Linked DNA regions of Homo sapiens. The protein of the gene in region 1 binds, or shares a complex with, the protein of each later gene. Links are inferred from orthologs where the notes say so. Each region holds a gene or a part of one and is shown on either strand. Other genes may lie near its edges.

The links.
Region 2: the proteins of DFFA (region 1) and DFFB are in contact, whole or in part, in an NMR structure (PDB 1F2R), measured with the Mus musculus proteins. The link is inferred for Homo sapiens from one-to-one orthologs. Residues at the interface, in NP_001020467.1 of Mus musculus: Asp66, Thr68, Ile69, Val70, Asp71, Asp72, Asp74, Tyr75, Trp94, Tyr96, Asp100; in NP_031885.3 of Mus musculus: Cys10, Lys12, Arg14, Ala19, Cys20, Lys21, Phe22, Gly23, Val24, Ala25, Ala26, Arg39.

Annotation. Positions count from the first base shown.
Region 1 is NC_000001.11:10,464,605-10,479,553, reverse strand, and holds the start of DFFA (DNA fragmentation factor subunit alpha), read left to right. Parts: upstream 1-7,024; 5' UTR 7,025-7,095; coding exon 7,096-7,231; intron 7,232-10,215; coding exon 10,216-10,377; intron 10,378-12,221; coding exon 12,222-12,364; intron 12,365-14,949. Other genes in the region: peroxisomal membrane protein PEX14, read right to left, coding at 4,474-4,587. UniProt on the Homo sapiens protein: Inhibitor of the caspase-activated DNase (DFF40).
Region 2 is NC_000001.11:3,853,407-3,868,039, reverse strand, and holds the start of DFFB (DNA fragmentation factor subunit beta), read right to left. Parts: upstream 10,565-14,633; 5' UTR 10,437-10,564; coding exon 10,323-10,436; intron 9,323-10,322; coding exon 9,196-9,322; coding exon of another isoform or gene 9,174-9,195; intron 7,621-9,173; exon of another isoform or gene 7,534-7,620; intron 2,398-7,533; exon of another isoform or gene 2,323-2,397; coding exon of another isoform or gene 2,229-2,322; coding exon 2,040-2,228; intron 1,757-2,039; coding exon of another isoform or gene 1,737-1,756; exon of another isoform or gene 1,638-1,736; intron 67-1,637; coding exon 1-66. Other genes in the region: CEP104 (centrosomal protein of 104 kDa), read left to right, coding at 12,073-12,166. UniProt on the Homo sapiens protein: Nuclease that induces DNA fragmentation and chromatin condensation during apoptosis. Degrades naked DNA and induces apoptotic morphology.

The DNA.
Region 1 (14,949 bases):
AAGGAAGAAAAGCTAGTAGGAAAGTTGGGAAATAGAGATAACGTTTCTCATTCCTACGGGCTCCAACGTGTACACACTAGAAAGGACTTCAATGAGAGATCAGCCATGCTGGCTGGGCGTGGTGGCTCATGCTTATAATCTCAGCACTTTCTCTCTCTCTGTCTCTTCCCCCGTCCCCAAACAGGGTATTGCTCTCTCACCCAGGCTGGAGGGCAATGGCACAATCACCGCTCACTGCAGCCTCAACCTCCCAGGCCCAAGTGATGCTCTCACCTCAGCCTCCAAAGTAGCTGGAACCACAGGCAAGCACTACCATGCCTGGCTAATTTTTTAATTTTCAGTAGGAACGAGGTCTCCCTATATTGCAAAGGCTGGTCTCAAACTCCTGGCCTCAAGCGATCCTCCCAACTCAGCCTCCCAAAGTGCTAAGATTACAGGTATGAGCCATCACGCCCAGCCAGGAACTCACCACTACAAAAATTGTTTTAAAAATACATTAGCCAGGCCAGGCACAGTGGCTCACACCTGTAATCCCAGCACTTTGGGAGGCCGAGGTGGGCGGATCACGAGGTCAGGAGATCGAGACCATCCTGGCTAATACGGTGAAACATCGTCTCTACTAAAAATGAAATAAAAAAAAAATAGCCGGGCGTGGTGGCAGGTGCCTGTAGTCCCAGCTACTCTGGAGGCTGAGGCAGGAGAATGGTTCGAACCCGAGAGGCGGAGCTTGCAGTGAGTTGAGATCGCACCACTGCACTCCAGCCTGGGCGACAGAGCGAGACTCTGTCTCAAAAAAAAAAAAAATACATTAGCCAGGCATGGTGGTGCACACCTGTAGTCCCGGTTACTCAGGAGGCTGAGACGAAAGGATTGCCTGAGCCTGGGCGGGCAAGGATGCAGTGAGCCATGATCACACCACCGCACTCTGGTGACAGAGTGAGACCCTGTCTCAATCAATAGATCAACCACATAAAACAGAGCAATGTGGGGAACACAGAACAAAGGAAGCAATAAATGAAATTCCAGCAAGTCGTCTTGAGGATAGACTAAAAAGACTATACCATTATGAAAAAGTAAGTATGTTCCTGAAATGCAAAAGTCATGAAGGACAGCTAGAATAAACACTAGCATTCAGGGCATTCCTTGAAATTTTAAGGAATTACTTCTGAATAAAAGAACTTTACTAGACAAGTAGTCAACACATGAAAAATCATACCCCAAAAGATGTCGTAATAGAACTTGAAGAAAGGTTTAGATCCATTTGTGAGTGAAAACTCAGAGCTTATTAAATTGAATAATAATAATAATAGACAACACATTGTTTCAGGCACTGTTCTGGCATTTTTACATAAATAACTCATTTAAGGCCAGGTGCAGTGGCTCACGCCTGTAATACCAAGCTCTTTGGGAGGCCGAGGTGGGCAGGTTACCTGAGGTCAGGAGTTTGAGACCAGCTTGTCCAATATGGTGAAACCCCATTTCTACTTAAAAAAAAAAATTAGCCAGGCCTGGTGGTGCATACCTGTAGCCCCAGCTACTTGGGAGGCTGAGGCAGGAGAATCACTTGAACCTGGGAGGCGGAGGTTGCAGTAAGCCGAGATCGCGCCACTGCACTCCAGCCTGGTCAACAGAGTGAGACTCGGTCTCAAAAATAAATAAATAAATAAATAACTCATTTAGTCCTCAGAGCAACTCTGTGAGATAGGTCCTAGTATTTTCCCTGTTTTGCACATGGAGAAATTAAGTCTAGAAAAATTAAGTAGATCTGTCCGAGATGACATTGCTGGTAAGTTAGTGGAGTTAGGATTCCAAGCCAGTGGGTCTGGCTTTAGAGCCTATACTTGTAACCGCTATTCTACACTGCCTCTCAAGGGAAGAGAAGGTTATTCACCTTTAATAGCTGGAAACCAGAGATTGATATGACAAGGCTAACCAACAAACTTTCTGTGAAAGACAGAATACTGGCTCAGCCCCACAGTTCTAACCCTACACAACAAGGCGTGGGGGAATTAGCTAAACAATCCTTTCAATCCTACTCTGCTTTAATCGGAGAAATGGGAAACTGGATTGATCAAGACTTGAAAATGAAACAGGCAATTGCTGAAGAGCATTGGTTCATTCAAAAAGCGTGCATTTGCTTCTTGTTAGATAGCCATAGAGTCTGTTATGAAAAGTTCAAGTTTTGGCCAGGCACTGCAGCTCACGCCTGTAATCCCAGCACTTTGGGAGGCTGAGGTGGGCGGATCATGAGGTCAGGAGATCAAGACCATCCTGGCTAACACGGTGAAACCCCATCTCTACTAAAAACACAAAAAATTAGCTGGGCATGGTGGCGGGCGCCTGTAGTCCCAGCTACTAGGGAGGCTGAGGCAGGAGAATGGCGTGAACCCAGGAGGCGGAGGTTGCAGTGAGCAGAGATCGCGCCACTGCACTCCAGCCTGGGTGACACAGCGAGACTCTGTCTCAAAAAAAAAAAAAGAAAAGTTCAAGTTTTTCCCCCAGGCTGCCAGCATGTTCTGTGGCAATCCTACCTCCACCAGCTTTGGAAAGGAGGGCAAAGGAGAAGCAGAGCTGAAAATCAAACAAGTGATGGCCATGCCCCCTTAAAGGACCTTAGATCCTTTTCTATTAAATACATATACAGAGAGGGCAAACTTGCAAAACCAAAAGAATCCTTGGGCATAACAGTGGCTCCAAGTGGCAAGATTTTTAGTACTGTTTACAGCACTGGCAAATTAAATGTCCTATAAGAATCAGGAACAGAGCCGGGCACGGTGGCTCACGCATATAATCTCAGCACTTTGGGAGGCTGAGGCGGGCAGATCACTTGAAGTCAGGAGTTTAAGACCAGCCTGGCCAACATGGTGAAACCTATCGCTACTAAAATTACAAAAATTAGTCAGGTGTGGTGGCAGGCACCCGTAGTCCCAGCTACTTGGGAGGCTGAGGCAGGAGAATTGCTCGAACCCGGGAGGCAGTGAGCCGAGATTGCGCCAATGCACTCCAGCATGGGCGACAGAGAGAGACTCCGTCTTAAGAAAGAAAAAAGAATCAGGAACTGAGGACACCCTTCAATCCCAGCCTGTGGGCATTCCTAACACAAAACAATTCAGAGAAACCCAGACCCCAAGATGCCTTAGTATTTCAGCAAACTAAATGTGGTAAGGCAAGAAAGGAGAGGCCCTCCTCTCGAGACACTTGCCAAACTCCAGAACACCTGACAGTGAGAAGGCCAGAATCAGTCCTTGTTATCTCCCATGTTTTACAATCAAGACATCTTCTTCCTGAATCATTCACACTGCTAATAGAAACTGGTATGGGGGAACACACCAACTCCTTTAAGTTCAATTCTTGTAACAGACGTGCAGAATAAGACAGTAAGAAACACTAAGCGGTGGTCTTCTGCCTCTGAAGGAAGTGAAATACTAGTAAGTTGCTGAAAACTCTTAGAGGTGCTTCAAGGAGATGGGAGAGGAGGAATGAGGCCCCAAGTTGAAACTATTTTCTTCTTCCTCATTCTAATCCTAACTAAACTCAAAAATGTATGGATGACTAGTGGAGTCACACAGGTTCAATACAGGCTCAACAGAGCACACGATTTGGGGCATGTCACAAACCCTTAGTATTCATTTCTGTGAAATGGAGGTTAGTAGCCTGCACTTCATAAAGGTTGTAGTGAACACTAAACGAGATAATAGATGTAATTTGTGCTCAACATGACACCACACAGGCAGTTAAATGTAAGATGTCTCTTAGCCCTTTTCTCCTCACCCCACCCTACCCCACCTTTGGACTATAAACCCCTTCGGAGACCTTATCATCCACTGCCTCCCGGCCGCAGAGGCACAGGCGTCAACGCTGGTCCTTATGGTCCCCTTATTGGAGTGGGATTTGTCTGAATCTGCAGGTGAAAAGCTAGAGCGGAGCCCTCGGCCAACAAAACCAAACCCAGGGAAGCGAGGATGGGTCCTCAGCCAAAAGCTTGGTGGCGTCTGTTAGTCACAGTGCGTCCCTTTCCTATCAACGCACTGAGAGGGCTCGACTAGATTATTTCTGACTATCCAACTTGACGAGAGAAGCGCAAAGGTGACCACAGATGAAGAGGCTGGCAGCCGCTCCAGGAGGCTGAGGCCGTGAGGGAGTGGGAACCCTAATGGAAACAGGCCCCTCCCCGGAGGGGACAGCCGGGAACGATCGATCTATCCTCTCCTTCTCAAGCCCTCGCAGCTCAAGGCTGGGGACTTCCCAAGGGTCCCGTCACCCTCCCCAACAAGCTCAAGTGGGACCAGAGGTGCTGGCAGGCGGGAAGTGGGGACCCGGGGGCACAGCCAAACACCAGAGCCCGGGCTCCGGAATGTGGTCAAAGAGGGGTCACCGGGGGGAGGGGCCGGGTGGGGAGGACCTGGGGAGGGGCGGGGCTCAGGAGGGGGCAAGAGGTCGGGGTCCCCAGCTTCGGAGACTCGGGGTCCCTACCCGGCTCCCAGCCGTATGCTGAGCGCCCCCTCCAGCCGGGGTCTCCGCCGCACAGCGGGGCAGTCCCACTCCCCTTACCTGGCTCGGCTGCTCTGCCTGCTCCGAGGACGCCATCTTTCTGAGGCCTGACTAATCAACCGCCGCTGGGCGAGGTTTCTCCCAGGCGCCCTCGCTCTCGCCCTCCCGCCCAGACTAAGGTAGCCGGAACAGAGCCTGTCGATGTAGGGGACTGGGGCAGAGGGGTGGAGCCCGGGTGTCCGGGTCACCTTGCATAGTTTCCGTTAAGACTCTGCTTTCCAGGAAGATCCCAAGTCTATATCTTCTTTGCGTTGTTATATGTGTATTATTCTGGTTTTGCTTTTTTTTTTTGAGACGGAGTTTCGCACTTGTTGCCTAGGCTGGAGTGCAATGGCGCGATATCGGCTCACCGCAACCTCAGCCTCCCGGTTTCAAGTGATTCTCCTGCCTCAGCCTCCCGAGTAGCTGGGATTGCAGGCATGCGCCACCATGCCCGGCTAACATTGTATTTTTAGTAGAGATGGAGTTTCTCCATGTTGGTCAGGCTGCTCTCGAACTCCCGACCTCAGGTGATCTGCCCGCCTCGGCCTCCCAAAGTGTTGGGATTACAGAAGTGAGCCACAGCGCCCGGCCCATATTATTCTTATTGAGTTAATCTCTGCCCATCCCCACAGTGCCATGGGCACATTTAGGGACTTGCCAATGGATGAATGCGAAGAAACTTGGAAATTAATTTTTAGACATCAGTTCAGTTCCATTCATTGAGTGCCTACTATATGCTAGGGACTTTGGTAGGCCTTGAAATAAAAACATTCAAGACTCAATCCCTACTCCCACGCCCAGGCCAAACACACTTACAATTACAGTATTATGGGGATAGGACTCGGATAAGTGTGCAGGTCTATTGGGAGAACATAAAAGGGGGCATTTTGAAGAGAAGAGGCTTCTACAAAACGTCATTATTTTACACTGGTTGAATTGTTAGATTTTTTTAATTGTTAGATTTTAAATTAAATATTGGACGGGAGCAGTGGCTCACACCTGTAATCCCAACACTTTAGGAGGCCAAGGCAGGAGGATCCCTTGAGCCCAGGAGGTTGAGGCTGCAGTGAACTATGATTATGCCACTGCACTCCAGCCTGGGCGACAGAGCGAGACCTTGTCTAAAAATAAGATAAGAAAATAAAAAATGAAATTATATGAAAAAGGATACATACATTAGAGTTAACCGCCAGCTCCTATTATAGTTGTGTTTTGATCAATATAGACTGCTTAAAAGGGATGACTTAATGAATAATTCCTCCTACTAAACGCTGTTTTAAATGTCTAAACTTTTCTTGAGATAATATCCAATTTCCTCTCCCACGTTTTTTTTGTTTGTTTTTGCTTTTGTTTTTGTTTTTGCTTGAGACGAAGTCTTGCTCCTGACGCCCAGGCTGGAGTGCAATGGTGCGATCTGGGCCGACTGCAACCTCCGCCTCCCGGGTTCAAGCGATTCACCTGCCTCAGCCTCCCAAGAGCTGGGACTACAGGCGTGCGCCATCACGCCCGGCTAATTTTTGTATTTTTAGTAGAGATAGGGTTTCACCATGCTGGCCAGGCTGGTCTCAAACTACTGACCTCAGATCATCTGTCCGCCTCGGCCTCCTAAAGTGCTGAGATTACAGGGGTGAGCCACCGCCCCCGGGGCCCTTGCCCACGTTTTTATAAACAAAATATGAGGTGGGAGGATTGCTTGAGCCCAGGAGATCAAAACTGCAGTGAGCCATCATCGCGCCACTGCACTCCAGCCTGGGAGACAGAGCGAAACGCTGTCTCAAAAAAAGAAAAAAGAAACAAGGAAGGAAAGTGTCCCCCGAATGAATAAATATGAGCAGATAATTACTTCTAGTTTACATAAAATGCCCTCTTTTAAGAGAGGAACTTTTTGATCATTTTTATTACTATTCTTTTAATCTTAGATGTTTATTTTTCAGGAGGAAAAAAACAAACTTTTCCATAGTAGCAGTATTAAAACAAAGATGAATATGTTGTCAAGAGGCATCTGAACAATCTCCAACAGTGCCGAGTCGCATTTCCCCTTTCCTCTCCGATGCATTTGAGACTTTAATGCTTACTATATTTATTTAAGCGTTTTGTTCTGAGACCCCAAACTAATTTGCACAGTTGAAGCAGGAAATAGAATGGGTGGAAACATGCGGGTGTCTGTATTAGCATTATGCATCTCATATGCGAATAGGAATGCTCTAAAAATTCAATACAGTATACATGCGTGTGCATCGTCATGCAAAATAAGTCTCTATTGGCCTTATATTTGAACGCGCGAATGCAGCTCCTAAAAGTTAAAAACAACTCCTAGGCTGAATCGCGCGATAGAACGAAAGCGGCTTTAAACCCAGAGACTACAGTTTCCGGCATGCTTCGACGCCACACGTGATTAGCGGCAACTAGAACTACATTTCCCGGCGTGCCCTGGTCTCACGTGTGATTTGCTGCGGAACGAACTACATCTCCCGGCAGGCTGCGGAAGGGGGTCGAGTAGAAGGACCGCCGCTCCGGCCTCCCGCGACTTCTCGAAGGTGGGCAGGTCCCACCTTGTGGAGGATGGAGGTGACCGGGGACGCCGGGGTACCAGAATCTGGCGAGATCCGGACTCTAAAGCCGTGTCTGCTGCGCCGCAACTACAGCCGCGAACAGCACGGCGTGGCCGCCTCCTGCCTCGAAGACCTGAGGAGCAAGGGTTGGCTCGGGACCCCGGGCGAGGGTGTGGGGGAGCCAGGGCCGGGTGAGGACGTCCGGCGGGGGCGAGGCGGGGTCAGGAGAGGCGACTTGGGGATTCTTGTATCTCGGGTGGAGGCTTGGGACAGAAACGGTCCGAGTGGGCATAGCGATTTACAGATTTAAGGCGCTTGAGCGTAATTAATCTCGTGTGAGACTCCACGGTGGTGGGAAGACAGCCAGGAAGCAATGTGCAAATTAAGCCAGACTCGGCTTAGGTCTCTTGCCTGAAATCACTTCGATGTTGGACCAAACGGACCCCACTGGGTTCCTGCCACTCCGCCACACTCAGATGGTACAAGAACCCCCAGCTGAGCCCACGGCGGTGTGGGGAGGGGTTTCCACCGTCCGCTCTGGCAGGAACCTATGCAGGAAAGAGGGAGCTGCTACTGACCATTTCTGGAGGTCCAGACAAGGAACGTGAGTTGTAAGTGACGGAGCCGACGGAAGTTCCGAGCCCGGCCCCATACCTTTACCAGCTGCTTGGCCTTGCACTTAACCAGCTCTCAACCCTCAGTTTTCTCATCAGCAAATTGGGTATAATATTTATAGCCCTGCTTCAAAGGGTTGTTGGTTCTCTCAAATAAGATGATATATTTAAGTGACTTACAAGTCTTATTAGCCAGTAGCAACAAATCGCTTACCCAAAGAAGTTTTACAGGTTACATGTGTGAGCCAGCCCCAGGCATGTAGTCACAGTGTGTGTCAGAGGGCACAGTTGCTTCCTCTCAGTCACCAACAGAAATCATATGGAAATTTTCAGAGACCCATGAACAGCCAAAGCATTATAAATGCTTTGGTAACATGGATTTTGCATATAAGCATTTATGTATTTTTTTTCCTGACATTAGATTACTTTACTTCTAATTCCCCTTCAGTGCCGTGGCTGGATGTGCGTGGCACAGAGGCTGGTGTTCTCTGCAGTCCAGCGCATACATGCCTTGCTGTTCTATTGGGTGGTAGACAACACCGCTGAAGGATATTTGTAGTCTCTTGGCTATTTCTGATCACTCCAGTCCCGTTAGTATTTGAAGCATTGCTATCACTAAATGGAATAGTACAGACCTGTCCTGGAGAAAGCCTCTCCGCCAATGATAATGATATGAAAAGCTACTGATAGAAGCTTCCACTTCTTTTATACTTTCCCATAGGTTAGAAAAGAAGCTGCTAAGGAAGATACTGTAAAGAACAAAAAGCATTTTCTTTTTTTTTTTTTTTTTTTGAGACGGAGTGTCACTCTGTCACCCAGGCTGGAGTGCAGTGGCGCTATCTCGGCTCACTGCAAGCTCCGCCTCCCGGGTTCACTCCATTCTCCTGCTTCAGCCTCCCGAGTAGCTGGGACTACAGGCGCCCACCACCACGCCCATCTAATTTTTTGTATTTTTTAGCAGAGACGGTTTTTCACCATGTTAGCCAGGATGGTCTCGATTGCCTGCTTTGTGATCCACCCGCCTCGGCCTCCCAAAGTGCTGGGATTACAGACGTGAGCCACCGTGCCTGGCCTTTTTGGTGTATTTTTTGACATTTTTACACATAGGAGAATTTAAGAGGACACCTGAGGGCCGGGTCCGGTGGCTCACACCTGTAATCCCAGCACTTTGGGAGGCCGAGGTGGGCGGATCACGAGGTCAGGAGATCGAGACCATCCTGGCTAACACGGTGAAACCCCGTCTCTACTAAAAATACAAAAAAATTAGCCGGGCGTGGTGGTGGGCGCCTGTAATCCCAGCTACTCCGGAGGCTGAAGCAGGAGAATGGCGTGAACCCGGGGGGCGGAGCTTGCAGTGAGCCCAGATAGCGCCTGGGCACTCCAGCCTGGGCGACAGAGTGAGACTCCGTCTCAAAAAAAAAAAAAAAAAAAAGAGGAAAACTGAATAAATGAATGAGAGACTGCTTGTTTGCAAGGAATCAAACTAGACTTTGATTGGTTGTTCACTCCAGTAAAAACTCAAATGCCTACCATACATGAGTGTGGAGTAGCTGGAGTAAACATACTTTCAGGAGCCAGACTTTGTGGGTTTAAATCCCAGCTTTGCCACTTACTGTGTGATCTTAGACAAGTTACTTAACCTCTCTGAGCCTTGGGTTCATCATCTATAAAACAGAACTAATAAAAGTACCTACTTTACAGGATTATTATGAGATTAAATACTGTATATGAAAAGCACTTAGGCCAGGCGCGGTTGCTCATGCCTGTAATCCTAGCACTTTGGGAGGCCGAGGCAGGTAGATCATTAAGTCGGGAGTTCCAGACCAGACTGGCCAAGATGGTGAAACCCCGTCTCTACTAAAAATACAAAAATTAGCCAGGCACGGTGGCCGGTGCCTGTAGTCCCAGCTACTCGGGAGACTAAGGCAGAGAGTTGCTTGAACCCGGGAGGCGGAGGTTGCTGTGAACCAAGATTGTACTACTGCACGCCAGCCTGTCTCAAAAAAAAAAAAAAAGAAAGAAAGAAAAGCACTTAGGGCTGAGCACAGTGGCTCATGCCTCTAATCCCAGCACTTTGGGAGGCCAAGGCGGGTGGATCATGAGGTCAGGAGTTCGAGACCAGCCTGGTCAACATGGTGAAACCACGTCTCTACTAAAAATACAAAAATTAGCCGGACATGGTGGTGCACGCCTATAATCCCAACTACTCGGGAGGCTGAGGCAGGAAAATCACTTGAACCTGGGAGGCAGAGGTTTCAGTGAGCCGAGATCGCGCCAGTGCACTGCAGCCTGGGTAACAGAGTGAGACCCTGCTACAAAAAAAAAGAAAAGAACACTTAGAACAGAATCAGGCACGTGATGAGTGTTCTGGTAGTGCTAGAAGTGATGATTGTGATTCTAGTTATTACCTACCAGGAGTTCTGCTCAGCTCTGGAGCCATACATACTTGAGATGCAGGGATAGATGTAATTTCCTTACGGTTATTTGTCATTTGCCAAATATTTTATTCTTTTCAGCCTGTGACATTCTGGCCATTGATAAGTCCCTGACACCAGTCACCCTGGTCCTGGCAGAGGATGGCACCATAGTGGATGATGACGATTACTTTCTGTGTCTACCTTCCAATACTAAGTTTGTGGCATTGGCTAGTAATGAGAAATGGGCATACAACAATTCAGGTAAGAAACTCTAGCCATGTATAAAACGGCCTATGCAGTACAGCATCCATCATGATTACTTTCACTGCACAGACAATTGCCATTTGTCTGGCTTTTTAAGCATTTGTTCAACAGATATTTACTGAGCACTTTCTATGTGCCAGACATGGTGCTGAGTCCTGGGGATAAAGATGAATGAGGCCAGGCACGGTGGGCAGATCACCTGAGCTCAGGAGTTTGAGACCAGCCTGGCCAACATGGCGAAAGTCCATCTCTACTGAAAATACAAAAACTAGCTGAGCATGGTGGCAGGCACCTGTAATCCCAGATACTTGGGAGGCTGAGGCGGGAGAATTGCTTGAACCTGGGAGGTGGAGGTTGCAGTGAGCTGAGATTGTGCCACTGCACTCCAGCCTGGGCGACAGAACGAGACTCTGTCTCAAAAAAAAAAAAAAATAGATGAATGAGACATGGGCCCAGTTCTCAACTAACTCATGGACAGACAGCAACTGAAATGCAGCCTGGCAGGGAGCTCAGTGCTGCAGGCTGCAGTCCAGCTGTTGAGGTCTGGATCCTGGCTCTACCATTTACTAACCAGGTGACCTTGTGCAAATTACATAACTTCTCAGTGCCTTGTTGACATAATAATTATAGAACCTGTCCCCTAAGATTGTTGTAAAGATAATATAGTACATATCAAACCAGGGTTTCTCAATGACACTGCTGACATTTGGGGCTGGAGTTGTGAAGAGGATGCTTTGTGTATGATAGGACGTTTAGTAGCATCCTAGATGTTACGAACCTCCCCCCACAACTGTGATAACCAAGAATAAATGACTCCAGATATTGTCAGATGTCTCCTGGGGGGCAAAATTGCTCCCACTTGAGAACCACTGATATGAAGTGTTTAGATCTTACCTGGCACATAGTTAAGGACTCAATAATTGTTACCTGTCCCTGCCATCATCATCATCACAGGAGATAGAAAGGGGACTAACATTGGTGACCAAGGATCAAGAAGTGTCTTGAGAGGGGATTAGTTTTAGGGAGGGACTTAAAAAAAAAAAAAGTGTCCTGAAGTGTGCCACAAAATTGAGGAAGTCATCCTACAGCAGTGGCCCTACCAGCCACCTTTGTGCTCAGGCCTAAGGGACAGCAATCGATGGCTACAGCTCTGCCAGTTAAAGAAGGGACCAATCCCCAAGCACAGAGAAATGCTGGCACAAATGACCGTTTTCGTATAAAAAACAGGACACACCTGGACACACAGAAACCAGAAAGGGAAGTGTGATTGGATTCCTTGTAGGTGTGACCACACATTGGGTTTAAATGGCTTTTTCTATGGAAGAATACAGAGCCGTTGCACACAGAGATAAAGATGAAAGAGGGTCAGGCACGGTGGCTTATGCCTGTAATCCCAGCACTTTGGGAGACCGAGGTGGGCAGATCACTTGAAGTCAGGAGTTTGAGACCAGCCTGGCCAACATGGTGAAAGCCCGTCTCTACTAAAAATACCAAAATTAGCTGGTCATGGTGGTGGGCACCTGTAATCCCAGCTACTTGCAAGGCTGAGGCAGGAGAATCGCTTGAACTCGGGCAGTGGAGGTTGCAGTGAGCCAAGATCGTGCCACTGCACTCCAGCCTGGGCAACAGAGTGAGACTCTGTCTCAAAAAAAAAAAAAATGAAAGAAGAGGGAAAATCAAGGTCCTGGATGGATATTGACCCTCCTGTGAATCCTTGAGATAAGATGCTTCTTTCCCATTGAAATTAATCTAGATCCTCAAGAGGTCTGTGTGTGCTGGGGGAGGAGGTGAAAACAGCACTTCAGGTTGTTCTGTGACTGGCATTTTCTCCCATGTGTCAGATGGAGGTACAGCTTGGATTTCCCAAGAGTCCTTTGATGTAGATGAAACAGACAGCGGGGCAGGGTTGAAGTGGAAGAATGTGGCCAGGCAGCTGAAAGAAGATCTGTCCAGCATCATCCTCCTATCAGAGGAGGACCTCCAGGTAAAGCCTCCTCCACAACCTGCAACAATGTTCATCCAGCCTCTGCCCCCCGCCCCAGCACCTTCTTAGCTTCCATACTTGCCATAGCAATTTCTTTGTTTTAATCTTAATTTTTAAATAATTCTTAAATTACAACTAAGATTTTTCATCTTCTCATTCTCACCTAGAGTAATTTTTCAACCCTCGTCACGAAGCAGAATTACCTGTGGATTTTTTTTTTTTTTTTTTTTTTTTTTTGAGACACAGTCTTACTCTGTCGCCCAGGCTGGAGTGCAGTGGTGCAATCTCAGCTCACTGCAGTCTCCACCTCCCGGGTTCAAGCAATTCTCCTGTCTCAGCGTCCCAGGTAGCTGGAATTACAGGTGCACACCAACACGCCTGGCTAATTTTGGTATTTTTAGTAGAGACAGCGTTTCATCATGTTGGCCAGGCTGCTCCTGAGTTCAAGTGATCCACCTGCCTCAGCCTCCCAAAGTGCTGAGATTATAGGCGTGAGCCACCGTGCCCGGCCAGATTTTTTTTTTAATACAAATGCCTGGGATCCACCCTAAACCTAGTTAGGTGGACGCTGGGGTCAGGGATGCCCTGCTAGAGAATGTAGCGTTGGAGTAGATGGCTTCACATCCCAGCGCTGTCACCACGACTTTGAGCCAGTAGCTTAGCTTCTCTCCTTGTGTTTTCTCTCTAGTAAGATTGGGATAGGCCAGGTGCAGTGGCTCACGCCTGTAATCTCAGCACTTTGGGAGGCCGAGGCGGGCAGATCACGAGGTCAGGAGATCGAGACCATCCTGGCTAACATGGTAAAACCCCATCTCTACTAAAAATACAAAAAATTAGCCGGGCCTGGTGGTGTGCACCTGTACCTGTAGTCCCAGCTACTCGGGATGCTGAGGCAGAAGAATCGCCTGAACCCAGGAGGTGGAGCTTGCAGTGAGCCGAGATCGCACCACTGCACTCCAGCCTGGGTGACAGAGAGAGACTCCATCTCAAAAAGAAAAAAAAGATTGGGATAAAAACAGTATGTTTTCATTCAAAGAAAATTTCTCTTTGAGACAGGGTCTTGCTTTGTCACCCAGTGCAGTGGCATGATCATAGCTCACTGCATCCTCGACTTCCTGGGCTCAAGCCATCCTCCCACCTCAACCTCTCAGGTAGCTGAGACTGTAGGCTTGCACCACCACACTGCGCTATTTTTTCTTTTTTTTTTTTTTTAATTTTTGTAGGCCAGGTGCAGTGGCTTATACCTGTAATCCTAGCATTTTGGGAGGCCAAGGTGAGCAGATTGCCTGAGTTCAGGAGTTTGATGTGGTAAAACCCTATCTCTACAAAAATTAGCTAGGTGTGGTGGCGTGTGCCTGTAGTTCCAGCTACTCAGGAAACTGAGGCAGAAGGATCACTTGAGCCCAGGTGGTCAAGGCTTCAGTGAGCCATGACTATACCACACCAACCTGGGCAACAAAGCAAGACCCTGTCTCAAAAATAAATAAATAAATAAATAAAGCCAGGCGTGGTGGCTCACACCTATAATCCTAGAACTTTGGGAGGCCGGGGCGGGCAGATCACGATGTCAAGAGATCAAGACCATCCTGGCAAACATGGTGAAACCCCGTCTTTACTAAAAATACAGCCGGGCACGGTGGCTTAACGCCTGTAATCCCAGCACTTTGGGAGGCTGAGGAGGGTGGATCACAAGGTCAAGAGTTCAAGACCAGCTTGGCCAAGATGGTGAAATCCCGTCTCTACTAAAAATATAAAAATTAGCCAGGCGTGGCGGCAAGCACCTGTAATCCCAGCTACTCAGGAGGCTGAGGCAGGAGAATCACTTGACCTGGGAGGGGGAGGTAGCAGTGAGCAGAGATCACGCCACTGCATTTTAGCCTGGGAGACAGAGCAAGACTCTGTCTCAAAAAACAAAAAAATTACAAAAATTAGCTGGGCGTGATGGCGTGTGCCTGTAGTCCCAGCTACTCAGGATGCTGAGGCAGGAGAATAGCTTGAACCCAGGAGGCGGAGGTTGCGGTGAGCCGAGATCACGTCATTGCACTCCAACCTGGTGACAGAGCAAGACTCAGTCTCAAAAAAAATAATTAATTAATGTTTTATAGAGAGGAGGTCTTCACAGGTTGCCTAGGCTGGTCTTGAACTCCTGGGCTCAGGCAGTCCTCCCACCCTGGCCTCCCAAAGTGCTGGGATTATTGATATGAGCCTCTGTGCTTGACCCAAAACATATTTATTGAGCCCCATCCTGTGCCTGTCATGGTTCTATGCACTGGGTGTGCAGTGGCGAACAAGCCAGACACAGTCTCTGCTCTAACGGTACTTGTATTCTGATGAAGGGAGGCAGAAAGCAACAGGAAAGCATATCAGACAGTGGTATGCAGAGAGTGATGGAGGCTACTCTAGACTGGAACACGGAGGAAGGCCTCTTTGAGGAAATGATTTCTTGGTGTTTTTTGTTTTGGTTTGGTTTGGTTTGAGACAGGGTCTAGCTCTGTCACCCAGGCTGGAGTGCAGTAGTGCAATCTCAGCTCACTGCACCATCTGCCTGCTGGGCTCAAGCGATCCTCCCACCTCAGCCTTCCAAG
Region 2 (14,633 bases), 6.6 Mb from region 1:
TCCGGATCCGGCTCTCACAGCTGTATCTCAGATAGCCAGACTTGCTCTGAAATCGGGACTCCAAGCCTGCAAGGAAAACGAGAAGACCCCCAAGTCCACAGGGCAGGCCAGGGGCCTCTGGGTCTGTGTCCTGCCCAGCCCAGGTGCCAAGCAGGGCAGAATATGAGGGTCATACTGCTTCATCTTTTTGACAGGGTCTTGCTCTGTCCTCCAGGCTGGAGTACAGTGGCACGAACACAGCTTACTACAGCCTTAACCTCCTGGGCTCAGGGAATCCTCCTGCCTCAGACTTCCAAGTGGCTAAGACTACAGGGACGCACTACCACACCTGGCTCACTTTTTAAATGTTTTTAGAGATGAGGTCTCACTTTGTTACCTAGGCTGATCTTGAACTCCAGGGCTCAAGCTGTCTTCCAGCCTCGGCCTCCCAAAGTGCTAGGATTATAGGTGTGAGCAACGACACCTGGCCAGATTGCATCATCTTGAGAAGTATTCTAATGGCGACACAGACAGCATCCCTGTTTGGTTTTTGTTGTTAGAAGCATCTCAAATACCACCAAGGAGCTTCTGCCTGGCCCTCAAGCCCTCCTTTCCCAAAAAGGCTACAATCTCTCAGCATCGCCTCTGATGGGCTTACAAGGCCAGGCCAAAAGGTGGAAGCAACCCAAGTGTCAGTGAATAGACAGTGTGGTATCTACACGCAGCGGAGTGAACAGACGGAGCGTGGCATGTACACGCAGTGGAGTGAATGGACAGAGTGGGGTATGTACACGCAGTGGAGTGAATAGATGGCGTGGTATGTACACGCAGTGGACTGTCATTTGGCCTTAAAAAGAAGGAAATTGGCTGAACGTGGTGGCTCACGCCTGTGATCCCAGCACTTTGGGAGGCCGAGGCGGGCGGATCACGAGGTCAGGAGATTGAGACCGTCCTGGCTAACACAGTGAAACTCCGTCTCTACTGAAAATACAAAAAAATTAGCCAGGCGTGGTGGCAGGCACCTGTAATCCCAGCTACTCGGGAGGCTGAGGCTGGAGAATGGCGTGAACCCGGGAGGTGGAGCTTGCAGTGAGCCAAGATCGCGCCACTGCACTCCAGCCTGGGCAACAGAGCAAGACTCTGTCTCAAAAAAAGAAAGAACTTTTGATATACGCTACGATATGGATGAACCTTGAGGACACTGTGCTGAGTGCAATAAGCCAGTTACACAAGGACAAATACTATGTGACTGCATTCATATGAGGTCCCTAGAGTCATCAAATCAGAGAGACAGAAACCGGAATGGTGGTGGCCAGGGGCTGGCGGAGGGGGAAGGGGGAGTGATGTAACAGGGACACGGGTTCAGCTTTGCAAGGTGGAAGGAGTTCCGGAGATGACGGTGGGGATGGCCGCATACAATGTGACTGTACCTAATGCCGATGACCTGTGCACTAAAAAAATGATTGAGAAGGTAAATTTTATGTCATATGTACTTTAGCACAATTTTTAAAATAATTATAATAGGCCAGGCGGGGTGGCTCCCGCCTGTAATCCTAGCACTTTGGGAGGCTGAGATCAGAAGTTTGAGACCAGCCTGGCCAACATGGCGAAACCTCATCTCTACTAAAAATACAAAAATTGGCAGGGCGTGGTTGCACTTGCCTGTAATCCCAGCTACTCGGGAGGCTGAGGCAGGAGAATCGCTTTAACCTGGGAGGCAGAGGGTGCAGGGAGGCAGAGGTTGCGGTGAGCCAAGATCACGCCACTGCACTCCAGCCTGGGGGACAGAGCAAGACTCCATCTCAAAACATATCTATAAAAATATAAAAAGTCCCATCCGAGGGCTGCCCTGGACTCTGGCCCCACCTGAGTCCTTGCTGGGTACCTTTCCCACGAGGCTGGGAAATGCTGGGAAATGAGCACATTTTCTTCCAAGTCCCCCACCTCAACCCACGAGGGTACAGGCCAGCCCTTCACTGGGGGCTTTTTGGAATCCAACTTCTTCTGGCACCTCAGGCTCCAAAGAAGCCTCTCCCCTGCCAGCTGCAGCCCCCACGCACCTTCAAACCACGGCGGGTCCTCAGCCCGGGTCTCGGCCGCGATGTTCTGGCTGACGTTGTGCAGGAGGTCAGCCAGCAGCCTCTGCCTCTGTGGGGCCTGCTCATCACACAGCAGCTGCTGGGCGGCCTGGATGAGCCCCACCTGTGGCTCGTGAAATGCACTGAGGAAGCGCCTGATGTCGCTCACATCTGCCACCAATGGGACAAACAAAAGGTGCCGGTCCAGCAGAAGACACATCCTGCCCCGGTCACAAGAAGAGCCTCTGACCACATCTTCCCCCATTCCCCAGGGCCTGGCAATCACCAGGACTCAGACTTGAGGTGTCCCGGGTCTTTGTCCTTGCCCTGACACCAACAGCTGGGGACCACGCACAAGGGCGGCATGAGGACAGAGGAGGGAGGGGCAGGGTGTGCTTTAGAGGACAGATGAAAGCGCACCAAGAGACGGCCGCTTTCCCATTTGGCCTCCTCCCCTCCAAACCATACGCCCCCCACTTTGGCCCTTCCTGGAGACCTTGCTTTCAGATCCTTCCGATCACTTTTCCTACTCTCTCCTGGAGCCTTTTCACAACTCCCTAAAGCAGCGAGCTCTCCGGGCAGGCTCTTAATAGGAAGTTAAAGCAAAGTCTACCCAGGACCTTAACAAAATGTTAGCAAAGAGAACTCAGTAACATGCACAAAGAAATATCACCACGGCCAAGTGGGAACGCAAGGCTGGTTCACACCTGCAAATCGATCAGTGCGATCCACCATATGAGAAAAGCCTCACGATCACATCAGTGGGTCAGAAGAAGACAGGAGGACATGCTGGGGAGTGAGGACTTGGTGGAAGTCCTTAGACCTAACATCAAAAGCACTGCGTAAAAGAGAAAATCAACACACTGAGCTTCCTCAAAACTAAAAACTCTTACTCCGCAAAAAAAAAAATGCTCTTAAGAGAATGAAAAGCCACAGGGTAAATATTTGCAAACCACATGTCTGACAAAGAACTCATGTCCAGGTATTTTGTTTGTGGGGTGAGGCGTGACTTTCAAAACTCAACAGTAAAAAAATAGATAAATAAGCCAATTAGAAAAAGGACAAGAGACAGGAAGAAACACTTCACCAAGGAGAATCTACAGATGGCAAATAAGCACATAAGAAGATATTTAGGGCTGGGCGCGGTGGCTCACGCCTGTAATCCCAGCACTTTCAGAGACCGAGGTGGGAGAATCACTTAAGGGCAGGAGTTTGAGACCAACCTGGCAACCAAGACCCCATCTCTAAAAAAAAAAGCAAGACCCCCATCTCTAAAAAAAATCATAATAATTAGCGGCACATGGGGGTGCACACCTGTAGTCCCAGTTACTTGGGAGGCTGAGGTAGGAGGATCGCTTGAGCCCAGGAGTTCAGGGTTGCAGTGAGCCATGATTGCCACTGCACTCCAACGTGGGCAACAGAGTGAGACCCTGTCTCTGTTTTTATAAAAGATATTCAGATAGTCAGCATTGTTAGCCATTAGGGAAATGCATATTAAGGGCACAACGAGACATCACCACACTGCAATCAGAATGGCTAAAATTAAAAACAGCAACAGCGCCGAAAGCTGGCGAGGCTGCACAGAAACTGCGCAGTGGAAAGGTAAGACGGCCACTCTAGCACACAACTTGGCAGTTTCTTTTCTTTATTTTAAGTAGCTTTATTGAAATATAATTCACACTCCTTATAATTCACCCATTTAAAGTGTACAATTCAGAGGCCGGGCGCGGTGGCTCACGCCTGTAATCCCAGCACTTTCGGAGGCCGAGGCAGGCAGATCACAAGGTCAGGAGATCGCGACCATCCTGGCCAACATGGTGAAACCCTGTCTCTACTAAAAATACAAAAATTAGCTGGGCGCAGTGGTGCATGCCTGTAACCCCAGCTACTCGGGAGGCTGAGGCAAGAGAATCGCTTGAACCCAGGAGGCAGAGGTTGCAGTGAGCCGAGATCGCGCCACTGTACTCCAGCCTGGGGAGAGAGCAAGACTTCATCTCAAAAAAAATAAATAAAATAAATAAAGTGTACAATACAATGGGTTTTATTATATTCCCAGAGTTGTGCAGCCACATCCACAGTCAATTTCAGAACATTTTCACCACCTCAAAAAGAAACCTCATACTCTTTAGCTACCAACCTCCCTCCCCTCTACCCTACCCCCAACCCTAAACAACCACTAATCTATTTTCCATCTCTCTAACATCCCCGTTCTGGGTATTTCCTATGAATGGAACCCTACTGTATGTGCAGGCTTCTTGACTTGGCATGGTTTCAAGGCTCGGCCATGCTGTGTTTCATTCCTCTTCATGGTGAGTACTTCCATTGTATGGATGTGCCACACTCTATTGATCCAAGTGTTCATCATTGGAGACTTAGGTGGTTTCTACCTTTTGGCTATTATGAATAAAGCTACTGTAAACGCTCACGGACGAGTTTTGGTGTGGACGTGTTTTCATTTCTCTTGGGTACATACCTAGGAGTGGAGCTGCTGGGTCACATGGCGATTCTGTGTAATTGTTGAGAAACTGCCAGACTATTTTCCACAGCAGCTGCACCGTTTTCCCTTCCCATCAATGGGGCCTGAGGGTTCCAGCCGCTCTGCATCCTCGCCCACACTGGTTGTTATCCTAGTGGGTGTGAAGTAGCATCTCACTGTGGTTTTGATTTGCAGTTCCCTGACGACTGATGATCTCAAGCACCTTTTCCTGTGCTTACGACCACTTGAATATCTTCCTTGGAGACATTTCTTTCTTTTCAGAACCTTTGCCCATGTTTAATTGGGTTATCTTTTTACTATTAAGTTATAAGGATTCTTTATATATTCTGATGCAAGTCCCGTATTAGATACATGATTGGCAACTATTTTGTCCTATTCTGTGGGCTGTCGTTCACTGCAGCCTCCACCTCCCCGGTTCAAGCAATTCTCCTGCCTCAGCCTCCTGAGTAGCTGGAATTACAGGCGCCTGCCACCACGCCCGGCTAATTTTTGTATTTTTAGTAGAGACGGGGTTTCACCATGTTGGCCAGGCTTGTCTCAACTCCTGACCTCAAGTGATCTGCCCGTCTCGGCCTCCCAAAGTGCTGGGATTACAGGCTTGAGCCACCGTGCCCGGGCCAGAGTTCTTAATGTTGATGAAGCCCAATTTATCTGTTTTTTCTTCTGCTGCTCATGTTTTTGGTGTCAAATCTAAGAATCTTTTGCCAAATCCAAGGCGATGAGGACTTATCGCTATGTTTTCTTCTAAGGGCTTTATATTTTTAACTTTTACATTTAGGTCTTTCATTTATTGTACTTTTTGTATAAGGTACCAGCTAAGAGTCCAACTTCATTCTTTTGTATGTGAATATACAGTTGTCCCAGCACTATCTGTTGAAGATACTACTCTTCCCCCTCCGTTGAATGGTCCTGGCATCCTGACCACAGATACATAGATTTCTGGGTGCTCTGTTCTATTCCATTGATCTATATATCTGTCCTTGTACCAGTGTCAGTCTTGATTACTGTGGCTTTGTACTAAGTTTTGAAATCAGAATATGTGGGTCCTCCTACTATCTTCTTTTTCACAGTCGTTTTGGCTATTCTGGGTCTCTTGCAATTCCATATGAACTGTGGATTAGAATCAGCATGTCAATTTCTACAATGAAACCAGCTGGAATTTTCATAGGGATTGTGTTGAATTTGTAGGTCAGTTTGGGGAGTCCCACCATCTTAACAATGTTAAGTTTTCCAATCCATGAACATGGGATGTTAATCCATTTATTCAAAACTTTAATTTCTTTCAACAACATTTTGCAGTTTTCAGAATATAAGTATTACAATTTTTTGTTACACTTATCCTAAGTATTTTATTCTTTTTGATGCCAGTGTAAATGGGATGATTTTCTGCTTCATTTTCAGATTGTTCGTTGGAAGTGTATTTCTATATTTGCATATGATCTTATATCCTTCAACCTTGCTAAACTTGATGATTAGTTCTAATCACTTTTTAGTGGATTCCTTAGGGTTTTCTACATACAAGTTCATATGATCTGCAAATAGAAATAGCTTCACTTCTTCCTTTCCAATCTGGATGCTTTTTATTTTTCTTGCCTAAATGTCCTGGCTAGACCCTGCAGTACCATGTTAAACAGAAGCAGCAAGAGTGGACATCCTTGTCTTCAGAAACTAAACACACACCACACAACGCAGCACTGTACTCCTGGGCATTCTCCCCAGAGGCATGAAAACCTACATCTCGCAAAAACCTGTCAAGATGGCCAGGTGCGGTGGCTCACGCCTGTAATCCCAACACTTTGGGAGGCCAAGGCGGGTAGATTGCTTGAGCCTAGGAGTTATAGGCCACCCTGGGCAACATGATGAAGCCCTGTTTCTACAGAAAATACAAAAATTAGCCAGGCATGGTGGTGCACCCCTGTAGTCCCAGCTACTCAGGGGCGGAGGTAGGAGGATCGCTTGAGCCCAGGAAGTGAAAGCTAGAGTGAGCTATGATTGCACCACTGCACTCCAGCCTGGGCGACAGGGTGAGACCCTGTCTCAAAAGAAAACAAGAAAGAAAAAAGAAAAACTTGTACATAATTGGCCAGAGCAGCTTCATTTGTAATAGTCAAAAACTGGAAACAAACAAAATATCTTTCCACAGGCGAATGGTTGAACAAACTGTGGTAAAACCAAACCATGGAATGCTACTCAGCAATGAAAAGGAACGGACTATGGATACACACAACTTACATGCATCTCGGGAGCCTTATGTGGAGTGAAAAAGGCTCATCTCAAAAGGTCACATACTTTATGATTCCACTTACCTAATATTCTTTTTTTTTTTTTTTTTGAGATGGAGTCTCAGCCTGTCACCCAGGCTAGAGTGCAATGGCACAATCTCAGCTCACTGCAACCTCCACCTGCTGGGCTCAAGCGATTCTCCTGCCTCAGCCTCCTGAGTAGCGAGATTACAAGCGCCCGCCACCATGCCCAGCTAATTTTTGTATTTTTAGTAGAGACGGGGTTTCACCATGTTGCCCAGGCTGGTCTTGAACTCCTGATCTCAGGTGATCCACCCACCTCGGCCTCCCAAAGTGCTGGGATTACAGGTGTAAGCCACCGCACCTGGCCCCTAATATTCTTTAAATGACAAAATTATAGACATGGAGAACATATCAGCAGTTGCTACGGGCTAGGGATTGCTGGTGGGCAGGGGTAGGCAGGATTATAAAGGGGAGAACCTTGAGTGATGGATGGGAGAGGGCTGTACCTTGACCCTGATGCTGGTCACAGGAATCTACATGGGGAGAAATGACAGAACAACATGCACATTGCACTAGTGTCGGTGTTCCTGTTTTATATTGTACCACGGTTGTATCTGATGTTGCCTTTGAGGGAAAGGGTAGAGGTACATTGGACCTTCCTATCTGTGCAACTTCCTGGGAATCTGTCATTATTTCTAAATAAACGGTTTAGGCCAGGCACAGTGGCTCATACCTGTAATCCCAGCACTTTAGGAGACCAAGGCAGGAGGACAGCTTGAGCCCAGGAGTGTGAGACTATCCTGGGAAACATGGCGAAACCCTATCTCTACAAAAAATACAAAACAATTAGCCAGACGTGGTAATGCATGCCTGTGGTCCCAGATACTTGGGAGGCTGAGGCAACGGGATCACTTGAAACACGGAGGTCGAGGCTACAGTGAGCAAGGTTTGTGCCACTGCACTCCAGCCTGGGCAACAAAGTTTCAAAATATAAATAAAACAAAAATATTTTGGCCAGGCACAGTGGCTCATGCCTGTAATCCCAGCACTTTGGGAAGCCAAAGTAGGAGGACTTCTTGAGCCCAGGAGTTTGAGGCCAGCCTGTGCAACAGAGGGAGACCCCATCTCAATGTTTTCATAAAAGAAAAGAAAAAAAATTTTTTTTAAGTCTAACAAGGAGGAGGACTAGCGGTCTCAGCGAAGAGAGGAGGATAAAGCGCCAGAGAAAGGAAGGACAGAGAGAGAGAGAGACAGAGACAGACAGAGAGAGCCAGAGACAGAGACAGAGGAGAGAGACAGAGACTGCGAGATGCAGGGAGAGACAGAGAGAGAGCAACGTGCTCTGCTGTCTTTCAACTATGCCCTGAAATGGGAAAGAAAGATAACATCCAAAGGTGAGGCATACCCTGAGCATACCCCTGCCCAGCCCCCACCTCCTGCAGGGGCCACCCCAGGGGGCATCACAGTGATACATTTTCCAGCTGCCTCCTCTAAAAGCACAAGGCCCAGTGGAGAAAGGGGGTTTGCAACCTTGGAGCACACACCAGAGGCGTCACCCCTCAATGCTGACAGTGGAGCCCCCAACACTGTAGCCGGGGAGGTGGCCACATGGATGTTACTCTTCGACTTCTCTCTTTTTGCCCCTTAGGCCAAGGAGCCACAGCTCCATCCCTCAGAGCACCCATGTCCTTCCTGGGCTGCCAGAAGCATCTCCTGGAGCCTGACCCCATTTGCACAACACTGGCCGACCCTCCCAGGTAAAGGCACATGATGGCATCTCCTGCCCCAGTGGCCAAAAGCTCTCTTTTACGGGAGTCAAACAAGCGCAGACCTTGGCATTCGGCTGGTTCTGAAAGGCAGGACTTTGTGTCCTGAGGCTTCAATACAGATGCCCCGAAAGAACCACCTCTCAAAGCAATTGCCCCCAAACTTGAGCCCTGAGGACAGCATCTTAGCAAACACCAACCGAGAACAATGTGAGAGCATCCCACGAACCACCACCTCGTCCTTCCAGAAGGGTGCTCAGCCCAGCAGAACAGAACAGCATCTCTTCCTGGCTCCACCTTCCCCATGAAACTGTGCAGGCCCCAACCCCAAAGCCCTCCCTCTGCTCTTGGGAATTGCTAGGACACCTCAAATGAACGCAAATAAAATTAAAAGATTTTTTGAAGAAAAAGACGACCAATTGAACAGCTGGGTTCATGAACGAGAGGACTGAGGACTCTGCCACCTAAGCGACGCTGACCAGTTCTGCCTCCAGAGGGCTTCCTCCTTGAGACCCGAGAGTTCACAGTAAGGGGGACTCTTCCCCACCCTGATGGGCACCTGGAGCTAAGCCCCCAGGACCTCGGAGAGTGCCAGCTTCCCGCCCACCTCCAAAGTCCTTGCCACTCACAGCCCTGCCAGGCCTGGCCCAAGGTGAGCAGCACCAGCTCGGCGTTGTCGGGAACACTGGGGAAGTAATCTTCCGTCAGCTCCGTGCCATCCTCGTACAGGCACAGCCGGGAACCGCGCTCAGGGAGCTGCAGGGACGGGAGAAGCAACAGGAGGAGGAAGGGTCTCAAGACGAGGGCTTTGCATCTGCAGGCCTCACAAACGACCGGAATGAGCTGTGCTTAAAGAAGCAGGCTCAGGCTGCCGCCTGTATGCCACAGTCGCTCCAACGCCCAGGCAAGGATGAGGGAGCGGGAGCAAGGGCGCCTGACTGCGGGCCGTTCTAAAATACGAAGAGTCAGGAAAAACATACATCAGGGGGTGACTGCTGGCTCTGCAGGATTCACCCTTTTTAAATGAGCTCCTGAGGGCGCTTCAAATAGAGCCTGTCTTTGACAGCGCCGCCTCCCTGCTGCCAGGAGCTGAACACCACCATCCCCAGCACACAGCCGCCAGAGCGGTGCTGGCACACGAAGGAGAACGGTTGGTTGCCTCTGTGCACAAGTGTGACCGGCACGTGGCACTGTTAATTTGTTGGAGTCCGGTTCCCTGTTACTCTGCACTGGTCAGTTTTAGGCATTTTATGGCTACTCCCACCCCACCCGCACCGACCCCGGCAATGCACACCTGGTAACCCTAGTACTGGTCTAAAAAGAAAACCAACCTAGAATAAGGTGACGATTGCAATCCCCAGCTGCGAGGGCTGGAAGGGGCCTGCAGAGCCCACCTAGCCAAGCCTTTCATGTTACTCAAGGGGAAGCTGAGGCCGGACAGGCAGAGCAGCCGTGACCCCGCGTGCCAGTACCTGGCACTCTACCCGGGTCTCCTAGCTCTGATGCAGGGCTGTCCTGCCCGAGAGGTGGGAAGAGGGAAGGGGTGATCCAGGTCGTCCCCCAACCCCCCTGCGTTCTGAAGCCACGCTCAGGAACCCCAGGCTGCGGGGGCCCGGGGTCCTAGCGGCTGAGGCGAACGAAAACTACCCGCCCCGGGCGCCGCCTGCACCCTCCGTTTTGGAAGAGGAAAAGCGGCACCTCCTATTCTCCCCACACGCCTCCCCGACGGGCCGTCCCCGCCTAGCCCAGCGGGCACCTGGAAGCGGAGACAGCCCTTGCGCAGCACCTCCTGGCAGCTCCGGCCAGCCACGCCGAACTTCCTCGGGCTGCGCAGGGCCCGCAGCTTCACGCTCTTGGGCTTCTGGAGCATTGCAGATGTCCTCAAGCCCTCTGGGTCCCACAGGCGGTGGCACCTGCTGCCCAGCTGCTCAGATCCGTCCTCGCCCTGGCCGCAGGGGTCTGCACCTGGTGAGCTCTGCAAGCTGGCACAGGCCGGGTGCCGATCCCGGAAACTACATTACCCAGAAGGCCTGGGAAAAGTGAGGCCCGACGCGGTCTTGTGCGCAGGCGTCGCCCCACGGACACCACATTACCTTACTCAGAAGGCTCAGGAAAGCAAAGGCGCGACGCCACCTGGTGTGCCCAGGTGCCGTGGCCCCGGAAACTACACAACCCTGAGGGCCAGAGTAGCGGAGCCCTCCCCTTGTGCGCAGGCGCGGCCTGGGGTGGGGCGGGGTCGCGCACGCGCAGAGGCCCTGGCCCAGGGCTGGGCTTGGTTGTCATGAGAGTGGAGGCTGCGGCCGGGGCTATGGGCAGAGGTGGCCGGGTCTGCTTCTTCCCTGTCACTGCCGCAGCAGCTTGGGGTGCAAGGCGGCCTGGGGCGGCGGAAGGGGCGCCCCCCGAGTTCCGTCTGAGGAAGCGGCGGCTGCCGAGGAAGTCCACGAGAGCCGGGTCCCGCACGCCCCTGGGGTCCGGGTGCTGAGGCGCCGCCTGGCCGCCTCCCCGGGCCGCGGCACCGCTCCGACCCAGCCGCCCTCTCCACCGGGGCCGCGGCAGCGCCAGTCGGGGCCCTTCCCTCTAAGCAGGTACCTTCCGGGCCGCTGCGGCGCCGGCCCAGGGCCGGAGTGGGGAGCGGGGCGCGGGGCGCGGGGCGCGGGCGCCGCGGGGGCGCGGTCCCCACCTGGGAGCTGGGTACGAAGCCTGGGTGCGCGGTGCAAGCGCGGACGGTGTGGAGTTAGATGCCGGCCTTGCTGTCGCCGAAGAGCCGGCGCGGCCCCGTCGTGCCGTATGCCGGGGAGCTCAGCACGGGTGCTGGGACCGCCTGCCCCGGCCGGGACGGCCCATTTAGCGTGGAATATTGTTTTCAGATCCGGCTTTTCCTCTTCTGGATGCGTAGCACATAGGGGGCCAGTTTCAGATGTGTTCTGCTGAGCAAAAGTTTGAGGAAAATTGCTCTGTCCCTATAGAGATTAAAGTCTGATGGTTGGTTGTTTTTTGTTTTGGAGTTTGTTTTGTTTTGTTTGCACTTAAGTTCAGATTTCTCTGAAGCCCTTTCAGTCGCTAAGATGACTTGATCAGAAACCCATAAGCCTTTGAGACGGTCTCGCTCTGTCGCCCAGGCTGGAGTGCAATGGCACGATCTCAGCTCACTGCAGCCTCCGCCTCCCGGGTTCAAGCGATTCTCCTGCCTCAGCCTCCCGAGTAGCCCGACTAATTTTTTTATTTTTAGTAGAGACGGGGTTTCACCATGTTGGCCAGGCTGGTCTCGAACTCCTGACCTCAAGTAATACGCCCTCCTCGGCCTCCCGAAGTGCTGGGATTACAGGCATGAGCCACCGCGCGCAGTCACACTTAAAAGTCTTCTTAAAAAGAAAATCAGAGACAAGTTTTGTTTCCTAGTCTTGTAACAAAATGGAAGTTGCTACACTGAGTTTCCGTTTAATTTATAGTTAATTGCCTTTTACCATGCCAGCACTAGGAAAAGTGTAGTGAGGGATGAGACCGCCATGGAGTCATCGCTGCCTGGGGAGAGATGTACTCTGGCATTTGTCGGGATGTCGATGGCTGCCCCTGGGACAACAGGGATCCCTCATGCCTCTGGTGAGGAAGACCAGCCAATAACTGGATGTTCAACAGAGCTTTGCTTCTTCCCAAATTGTTAATGGTGATTTTTATAGAGCCTAAAAGTGGCATCCTTCAGTGACATTCCAAGTATCTTATGTAACACTTGAAGGTTTACACAGAGGGGACCCTAGGGTACAACTGGAAGGTCTTTGGGAGGGGGTAGACTAAAAAAGGAATCCTTTTCAAATACCAGACTGAGGTAATAGCATTGCCTCCACAGTCCCTGTGCATTTCTCTTAGCTGGTTCTTAAATGCCAGTACTTTGTTTTAGATTTGTTGGGGGCAGTATAGCATACTGGAAACACCCTTCTGTTTGACTGAAAAGGTCCTATATTTATGTCTTCGAGCCGTAACAGAGAGTGTTGGTTAGGTTCAGAGACTAGCCAGGCTCGGCGGCTCACGCCTGTAATCCCAACACTTTGGGACACTAAGGTGGGAGGAGTTCAAGACCAGCCTAGACAACACAGTGAAACCCCATCCCTACAAAAAAAAAAAAAAAAAGTAGCTGTGCATGGTGGCATGTGCCTGTAGTCCTAGCTGCTCAGGAGGCTGAGACAAGAGGATCATTTGAGCCCGAGAGTTCATGGTTACAGTGAGCTATGATCACGCCACTGCAGCAGTACAGCCTGGGCAACAGAGCGAGAACCTGTATTAAAAAAAAAAAAAAAAAAAAAATCGGGGCTGGGCTTATTGGCCACGCCTGTAATCCCAACACTTTGGGAGGCTGAGGCGGGTGGATCACCTAAGGTCAGGAGTTCGAGACCAGCCTGGCCAACATGGTGAAACCCCATCTCTACTAAAAATACAAAAATTAGCTGGGTGTGGTGGTGCGCACCTGTAATACTAGCTACTTGGGAGGCTGAGGCGGGAGAATCACTTGAACCCAGGAGGCAGAGGTCGCAGTGAGCCGCGATCACGCCACTGCACTCCAGCCTGGGTGACAGAGTGAGACCCTCTCTCAAAAAAAAAAAAAAAAAAATTTGGAGACTGGAACCCAACAGCCTGGGCACAAGAGGTATTTTCAAGGTGGAATAGGGAGTGACAAGCCCTGCCCTGAAAGATGATGAAAGGGGCCTGGCATGGTGGCTTATGCCTGTAATCCCAGCACTTTGGGAGGCCAAGGCGGGCAGATTGGCCAGGAGTTCGAGACCAGCCTGGCCAACATGGCAAAACCCCGTCTCTACTAAAATACCAAAAAAAAAAAAAAAAAAAAATTAGCCAGGCATGGTGGTGCATGCCTGTAATCCCAGCTACTTGAGAGGCTGAACCACAAGAATCACATGAACCAGGGAGACAGAGGTTACAATGAGCCCAGATCACGCCACTGCACTCCAGCCTGGGTGATAGATTGAGACTCTTGTCTCAAAAAAGGAAAAAAAGCTGATGAAAGGATTGGAGGGCTTCAGAGCTGAAGGGTATTAACTTTGAGCTTTGATTGTTTGGCTGGACTTCAGAATTCAGGACAAGAAGTGAGGGTCAGGGGAGAGTTGGCGCATTGATCCCTAGATGGGGAGCCCACCAAGAGCTCTGGAGTTAGGACATGGATGGAGATGACTGGAGCTGGGCCTGAGGCACGTTCACACAATAGGAACTTAGGACTTGTCTGAGGGAGGCGCTTCAGGTGGGGACACCAGGTGGTTGCTGTCTAGAAAAGACAGTGGGATCAGAAGGAAGGGCAGGCCTGATAAGACCTGGCACACTGTTGGATGGGGAGTGGGTGAAGAGAGATGCTGTGGCCAAGGGAAAAGTACCTCTAGGCTCAGAGCCCATGCGACCCAGAAGTGCCAGGTCACGAAGGAGTGGGAGCCATGGGCTGTGCGTTTCTGGCATAGGTTGCCCAGAGTGCAGGTGGGGCCGTGCAGCTAACAGTGGGTTAAATCACACTCATCCTTTCAAAATTCTTTTTTTGTTTGGTTTTTTAGAAACGGGGTCTCACTCTCTTACCCAGGCTGGTCTCGAACTCCTGGGCTCAAGTGATCCTTCCACCTCGGTCTCCCAAAGTGCTGAGATTATAGGCAGGAACCACCACACCCAGCCTCATCCTGTTCTGGGGGGCTTTTTAAAAATTATTTTCTGAGTTGGTTTAGTTTTGTTTTTGTTTAATATACAGTAACATCTTGCAGTGAACTTTGTGCAAAAAATAACTAGAATCTCGATGGTTTATCATTCTATTTTAGTGCTTTTGTTCATACATTCCAAGAAACATTAGCAATAATGCCAGCCAATAATTAATATATTGAAGTGGTCCTCTTCGAATTCTCAATGAAAGTAAAAGAAAGATCTAGATCATGCATCAAGCATGTCAAAATACGTACAGTTTTATGTGGGGGTATGTTTATATGTTACCTCCTATTGGGAATTTCAATTAATAGTATATCTTATCCCAGAGAACTTTCTGATGGAGTCTTCTTTATCCTGGTTTAGTGAGGAGCCTTTTTTTTTT